Linked DNA regions of Homo sapiens. The protein of the gene in region 1 purifies or fractionates together with the protein of each later gene. This does not show direct contact. Each region holds a gene or a part of one and is shown on either strand. Other genes may lie near its edges.

What was found. The genes of interacting proteins can lie anywhere in the genome.
Region 2: the proteins of PGM3 (region 1) and LACTB2 fractionate together in Homo sapiens (co-fractionation; one large-scale study listed by BioGRID). This does not show direct contact.

The regions. Positions count from the first base shown.
Region 1 is NC_000006.12:83,186,766-83,190,265, forward strand, and holds part of PGM3 (phosphoacetylglucosamine mutase), read right to left. Parts: intron 2,034-3,500; coding exon 1,849-2,033; intron 311-1,848; coding exon 243-310; intron 1-242. UniProt on the Homo sapiens protein: Catalyzes the conversion of GlcNAc-6-P into GlcNAc-1-P during the synthesis of uridine diphosphate/UDP-GlcNAc, a sugar nucleotide critical to multiple glycosylation pathways including protein N- and O-glycosylation.
Region 2 is NC_000008.11:70,666,386-70,670,661, reverse strand, and holds the start of LACTB2 (endoribonuclease LACTB2), read left to right. Parts: upstream 1-1,476; 5' UTR 1,477-1,541; coding exon 1,542-1,663; intron 1,664-4,276.

The sequences.
Region 1 (3,500 bases):
TTAGTTCAGAATTTCCCAGCTATAATCTCCTATAGTACTACCATAGGTAAGACAAAACATGCCTGCCCAGAAACGACCTGGAAGATGATTTTTAAAGTTAGTATTTTGTATCTAGGAGTTCATTTTTTAAACATTTTTTGTTCATCTGTATTTTCAAACTTTTCTAAATAAATATACATTACTTTTGTAAATTAAAGTTTTTTAAATATTAGTTTAATTTCCAACTCAGGATAACTACATACCATGGAATTGACCTCCTAGAACAGTCACACCATCTATTACAGATTGTGAAAGTTTCTCACTGCTGGGCCTAGGAAAGAAAAGGAAGAAAATAATATATCCCATCCTGAAACTGGCAGGGTTGCTGGTTCTGCAAGCAAATGCAAAAATTACATGCTACAAATTTCAAAATAGTAAGTTCCTGGTATCTGAACTGAAAGCTATGAACTCTCAAGATAACTGGTAAATTATAAGCATTTTCCAGTAGCCTTTCACAATCTAGTTCTAGGAAAAATTCTGGCTTTTAAATGAATTTATAAAATAGATATAAAGGACACTCTAACCACAGCATACCCAAATACCTTTTCAAGTTCGACTACAGCAACATGTCTGAACTCTAAGAACAGTAACAATAAACACTGAATATACACAGTGTGTATAAGACAGTACTTGTATTAAGCTGCCAAGGATATAGAACCTGTTTTCCATTTTGTAAAGTCAGAACAAATTATCTATCTGAAAATAAAACAGATTACAAAACTGCCTTGGCCAGGCACAGTGGCTCACACCTGTAATCCCAGCACTTTGGGAGGCCGAGGTGGGTGGATCACAAGATTGAGACCATCCTGGCCAACACGGTGAAACCACGTCTCTACTAAAAATACAAAAATTAGCTGGGCGTGGTGGCACACAGCTGTAGTCCCAGCTACTCGGGAGGCTGAGGCAGGAGAATCACTTGACCCTGGGAGTCAGAGGGTGCAATGAGCCAAGACTGTGCCACTGCACTCCAGCCTGGTGACAGAGCGAGACTCCGTATCAAAAAAATAAAAAATAATAAAAAAACTGCCTTGTAGGAAAAAACGTTTCATCACTTACATTAGTTAATAGTTAAGAACCAAATACATGTGGGATGACTTTACTGTGGTGGGATAATTTACTTCAGAACATAAGTTACTCTGCTACCATCGTCGGTATCTGGAAAACCCTCTGGTAATACAACAGAGGGTAAAAAAACCAGTCCAGGTATTGGAGATTGAGTAGAAATTTCCTTTTGAAATAATCTCAGGTTAAAACCAGATCTTATGCAAAAGGAAATGCTACTGTTGCAAAGTATACTTTTCATCTAATATTTTACAAAAAGACATTTTTGTTAAGAAAGGCAAAAGCTGCAAAACAGAACTATGTGGAAAATAATATTGTAGTTTACAGTGAGCTCCAGCATGGGAAAATGATATAAATATTTGAAACAATAATAACACAGATTACAAAGTAAATCTTTAAAAATAATGAGTTCAAATCATGTGTTGACTCTGTAGGGAAAAAAAAATAAACCTACAGAGGGGGTGGGAGACATTTATTGAGTGCTTCTCTTGTGTCAGGAAGTATTTTACATACATTATTCTGCAGCTTGGGTTTTGGAGTAGGGTTTTAAACCAGAGTCAGACTCCAAACCCCAAGCTGCAGTAGTGACTTAGCTACTACATCCTACTAGAAAGGCCAGGCAGGTAGACATGCAACTCAGGGTAGTTCCACTTTACTTCTTTCCATTTGTCTTGGATTAAAACTGATACAATCGTTTATATCACGTTCCCAAAGGTTTTTTTTTTTACCAGTAACTCTTATCATCACCTGGTATCTCTACCAATAACTACAAAGGCATCTTGTTGCAGATTCACAGCTTCTTTCTCGCTGATGTCAATAAGCACTCTCTGCATATCTTGTTCCTCAGCATTTGCTAAACAGGTGGCATGTTCCTCCCAGGATGGTGCCAACATTTCACCCAAAGGATCAACCAATTTTACACCATTGTCTTCCTTAAAAGAAAAACAAACAATAAGCAATCTGTGCATACTCATGAGGCTGAGTTGAGAACAGAACTCAAAAGCTGTTTCCCTTCAACCAAAGACAGTGATGGCTGAGCAGCTTCAACAATAAACACCAAATATTAATACTGGACCCTGGATTAGGTATTTTATGTATATATATTACCTCATTAAATCCTCATGACACACATAATCAATTAAACTAATAATCCTATTTTAATTTCAATCTTCGAGAAAACTGAGCTTCAGAGAGGTTAGGTAATTTGCTTATGATCATACAGCTAACAAATGTCAGTACTGATATTAAAACAGCAAGTCTATCTTACTCGCCTAAAAACACTATGCCACACTAGCCTTTGTAAAAGGCTGTGATCTGTGCATCCACTATCCATAAACTGACTAGGGCACAAGTGGAGCAGAATAAGGGCACACAGAGATCCTTCTCACTATGACTCGGAACTCCAAGAACACACTAGCCAGCTTGTCAACCAGCGGGTAGGACAGACACTGAAAACTGCCTCCCAACACTGTTCTGCTCAAATTCGTGGAAAGAAAGTGTAGTTCACAGTGAATGTCACCTGAAAGAAAAGAGAATCATTTTGAGAAGTGCCTCTGGAACTAGCAATAAATGTGAGGGTCTTCCTAGAAGTCAATCAGTCAATCAATTATGGTGACTTACATATTTAGACATATACACATTTATAATGATCACATATTTGGACAAGCAATGCCCTTGTTTGGGGGAAGAGGAGGTTACAATCCTTCACAGACCTACACCACTTTAACTTGCTGCTGATTTAGCTACAAAGGCAAAAATCCCACAGCCCCAGCAATCAAATAGAAGCATATTATTCAAACCCTGTATTAATGGCCTATAGCTAATAAAGAATAACTACATTGTGTCAAGAGGTTGGCTAAGATATAGAAACAACAAAAGTGCTCATAAACAGATAAATGGATGAAGAAAATGTGGTATATATACACAATAGAATATTATTCAGCCTTAAAAAAGAAATACTGCCATTTGCATCATGGTTGAATCTGGAAGACATTATGCGAAGTTAAATAAGCCAGACACATGAAGACAAATACTGCAGGCTCATAACATACATGTGTTATGTAAAAAAGTGAAACTCACAGAAACACAGAGTAGTATGGTGGCGGCTAGAGGGTAAGGGAAATGGGGAGATGCTGGCCAATGGGCATAAACTTGCAGTTATAAGATGAATAAGTTCTGGAAGACTAACGTACAGCGTGGTGACTATAGTTCATAATAATATATATTGAAAATGTGTTGAGCGTACGTCTTAAGTATTCCCACCACAAAACAAGGTAACTATGTGAGCTAATGGATATGTTAATTAGCCTGATAGTGGTAATCATTTCACAATGTATACATATATCAAAACATGGTGTTGTATGACTTGAATTATACAATTTTTATTTATCACTTATACC
Region 2 (4,276 bases), on another chromosome or scaffold:
AAAGCAGATGTCATTAGCCACTCTGATACACTATGCTGCTGATTCATAAAATAGGTAAGAGCAGATCGTTTTCTTCATCAGAAATATCTGGAAAAAAAAAAGCCACCAAGCACTGTATGTGTCAATTTCTCACCTTTTTTTAAAAAAAAAAAGAGTGGGCTGCTACAGTGGATATGTTCTACATCTCTTTGGGGCAGTGATTACATACAATTGTCATAACTCGATGGAACTGTCTACAGGATCTGTGTATTTTCTTTTAAGTAATTTATAACTCAACTTTTTTTATGGGAAGCTGTAGTTAACACTGGATAGTTAATACTTGGCTGATAAGAAACCGACTTGTTACAGAGAAAATGAGTCCCTTCCATCTTGGGCACAAAACGGCTCCACAAGACCAGCCTAGCTCTCTGGGCAGGCAGGTAACACTGGCAGGCAGAGGCATGCTCCTTGAATCTCACTGAGGGGGACAAGTGTTAGTGCGAGGCAGGTAGGAGCAAGGCCGCACACGCAGACTCTGTCATCTGGGCAGCTGCCCAATCCCCGTTTTTCATTTGTAACAAAAATAGTGTCCACCTCTTAATAATGTTCTGAGGATTAAGGGCGTTAAGTCGGATGTTTGTTGAAAGCACTTAGGCATAGTAGGAAGTACTAAGTAAATATGTCTTACCACTATTTATTATAAAAGATGAACAGGCTGGCCCGGCGTGGTAGCTCACGCCTGTAATCCCAGCACTTTGGGAGGCCGAGGCGGGCGGATCACGAGGTCAGGAGATCAAGACCTTCCTGGCTAACACAATGAAACCCGGTCTCTACTAAAAATACAAAAAATTAGCCGGGCGTGGTGGCGGACGCCTATAGTCCCAGCTACTCGGGAGGCCGAGGCAGGAGGATGGCGTGAACCCGGGAGGCGGGGCTTGCAGTGAGCCGAGATCGCGCCACTGCACTCCAGCCTGGGCGACAGACCGAGACTTCGTCTCAAAAAAAAAAAAAAAAAAAATGAACAGGCTACTACTACTACTACTACACACACACACACACACACACACACACACACAGAGCCACTGCCTAAAAATCTGGCAATCCTTCCTGACATTTATTACTGAATAACGAACGGTTACCAAACCTGTCTCCCAAATCACAAGACTCTTCCAGATTAAAATGTCTCTCGCCCACTTGGATCCACTCGCCTGTCTAGGACACAAACCCGTGAGGCACCAGCCCCCGTGACAGAGGCAGATTCCAGCTTCGCCTCACGCCACCTCACGCCTCGCGCCAGCCTTCCCACCACTGCCCGCGCAGCCCGCGCGGCGTCACGTGACCTCTAGTTCCGCACCGCCCCCCCCACCCCCCGGCCTAGCTGCCGGATCCCCGCCCCGGCTCGTCCGCGGTGTCACATGACACCTGGACCAGCCGCTGGCCAATCCCCTCCCTCCCGGGTTGCGAGGCATCACGTGGACGCTACTCGCTATCCCCGGCCTGTTGGCTTCTTCCGCGCTGGAGTATCCAGATAGGCGACACGCCGGCGGGCGGCTGAGGCGGGAATGGCTGCTGTACTGCAGCGCGTCGAGCGGCTGTCCAATCGAGTCGTGCGTGTGTTGGGCTGTAACCCGGGTCCCATGACCCTCCAAGGCACCAACACCTACCTAGTGGGGACCGGCCCCAGGTAAACGTCCCTCTCCAACCTCCCCAACGTTCGCAGCCGGCCCCGGAGCCCGGGCTTTGACTGATCGCGGCTGCGCGGGCAGTGGAGAGCGCCGCGTCCTGTCCCTAGCTGGGCAGCCCCGCGCCTAGCAGCCCCGTCGGGACTGCACGCAGACACTCGGATCTCGAAGCTAGCTAAAATACGACCACCCCAGGTGATAGCTCTCTAATTTAGGGAGAAATGGAAAAAAAAAAAAAAAAAAAAAAAAAAACTTCTGTTTTGAAACCCGATTTACTGTTCTTGATGTTTGAATGCCAGGGTGTGCGTGTTTAAACTGTTGAGAAAATTCGGATGTCAAGAGTCCAAGAAAGCGTTTACTTTGCTCACTTGACTTTCACTGGTGTTTTGCCCAGAGTGTAACTTCCCTTCTCAAAAGCGATTAATTATGTTGAGGCGATTTCCTCAACTCAGCAGCAGAGGGCAGGATTCTCCTGGCTTCCAAATTGGTTCTCTGCAGCCTGTGGGCTCATAAGAGGAGCTGACATAAGTAATTTGGGGAAGTTTTTTGTTACAATTGTGTGTGACCTTGTTTGAGTTTAATTTGCAGACACAGTAACACACCTGTATTTCTAAGAAGATACTTTTGCTCTTGTTTAGCTGCATTCTGTTTTAGTGGAATTATGCAGGAATGGGAGATTTGGTTTACTGCATAGTAAGTCTTAGGCATTTAGCAACTTTTGTAGTCTTTACTGGATGAACCCAGATAATGTAGTTTCTCTTGAGCATAGAATTTAATTGTGCAGTCAAGACATAAATTATTTTTAAAATATAATTGATTACTAAAAACGATTTAGTAAGTACAGTTAATTGAGTTTTCCTTGGAAGTGTCTACTGTTTGGCGTTTTTCCAGTAAATAAGAATTTTAGAAGCAGCAGACCTGCAAAGTGGGCAGGTAAAAGATTAAGTTCAGAGTAAATAAGGCAGGGTCAGGTAGTTACCAAAGGTTTAGGCTGCCACCAGAATCTAGGAGGATAGAGAATTAAGCAGGAAAAATGCCAGATCTCTAGGGTACAGTCTGTCTTGGCTGGAAGTCCCTCAACCAAGTAAATCCATAGGCGGTCTCTCTACAGTGTGTCATCTTGAACTAGTCAATACCTCAGACAAAAGATGCATATTATCAGAATTACCCTGGAAAGTCTCTTAGAAGAACACCATGTTGGAGATCAGTGTATTGTCTCAGTAAGTTCAGCACAACCTGCCTTTTTTCCAGCGTTGAAACAGATGGCTGATTCTGTTTGAAAACCAGGTGAAGAAATTGGCTTGTGTTGAGGGGCTATATTGTATGAAAAATACATACTGTATCTTTAAACACTATAATCACACTCAACATAGCAAAGTGCTAGTGCTAAGAGAGACTTAAAGACTAACTGAGGGAAAAGCAGATTTATAGTCTCTCGTCTTAAATTACTTAACACTGTTGCTCACATAAATTAATGGAGTGGAATGGCCAGTGGAATTACTTGCACTATGTAAATTATTTCTCCATATAGTTGAACTAGAGAGTCCGTATAGTTGAGCTAGAAATAAGTGTAGATAATGCTACTGTATAAAGTAAAAGGTGTAAAGTAAAAGGTGGCTAGAAGTTAATATTAATTGGCCCCTTGTCAGATGTTCTGAGATTGGTATCCACCTGTTCCGCTTCACAAAACAGTTCTAAGATCACAAGCGGCTTTTGTATCACTAACCCCAATGGTATTTTTCTGTTCTCATCTTCCTTGAACTTCAGTGCTTTGACACCATTGACGACTCCCTCCTTAATTTGCCAACACCACATTCTTCAGGTTTCCTATTACCTCTTGAGCTGCTCTTTCTCTTTCACCTTGATAGAGTCATCTTCTTTATCAAATCTTTAATTATTTTAGTTATTCAGTATATAATCCTCATCTCTCATGTTCTTCTACTGTATTCTCTACCTAGGTGATCTCATCTACTTATTTGGCTTTGCCTTTATTATCTGTTTATTATTAACTACCAAATATATAGCTCAAGTTCAAATTCCAAACTTGATCTTCAGACTCAAGTAGCCAACTTTTAAATCTATTTGCATGACTCACTGCTGCCTGGAACTCAGTGTTTTCCATACTGAACTCATAACCTTTCCAGAAAACTGCCAGGTCCTCCTTCAGTTGTTCATATCTTGATAAACAAAGCCATCAAAGGAAATGCCTAAATACCCTTCCTGACATTTATTTGCTTCCTACTGCATATCCAAGCCATTATGAAGATCTGTTCATGTCCCCTGCTGTCACTCAGTCCAAGCCAGCACAACTCTTGCTTAGGCTACTGTAATAGCCTCCTAATTGGCTTCTGTACGACTACCTCTGTCTCTCTTCAATCCAATCTTCCCTTTGTAGCCTGAGTGGTATTTTAGGAATTAAAACTGGAAGGCCTTGTGTATTCTGGCCTCCATCAGTCTTATCAGGCTCCTCTCAAACCTCTCCCACTCCAGCCATGCTGGCCTTCTAGTGTCTCAGATGAGGTTTGTGATTCCCTGTCTCAGGGCCTTCACGCATGCTTTCCTCTTTCTTCCACTCATTCCTCCCTTCTTTACCCAGCTAATCTCATTCATCCTTT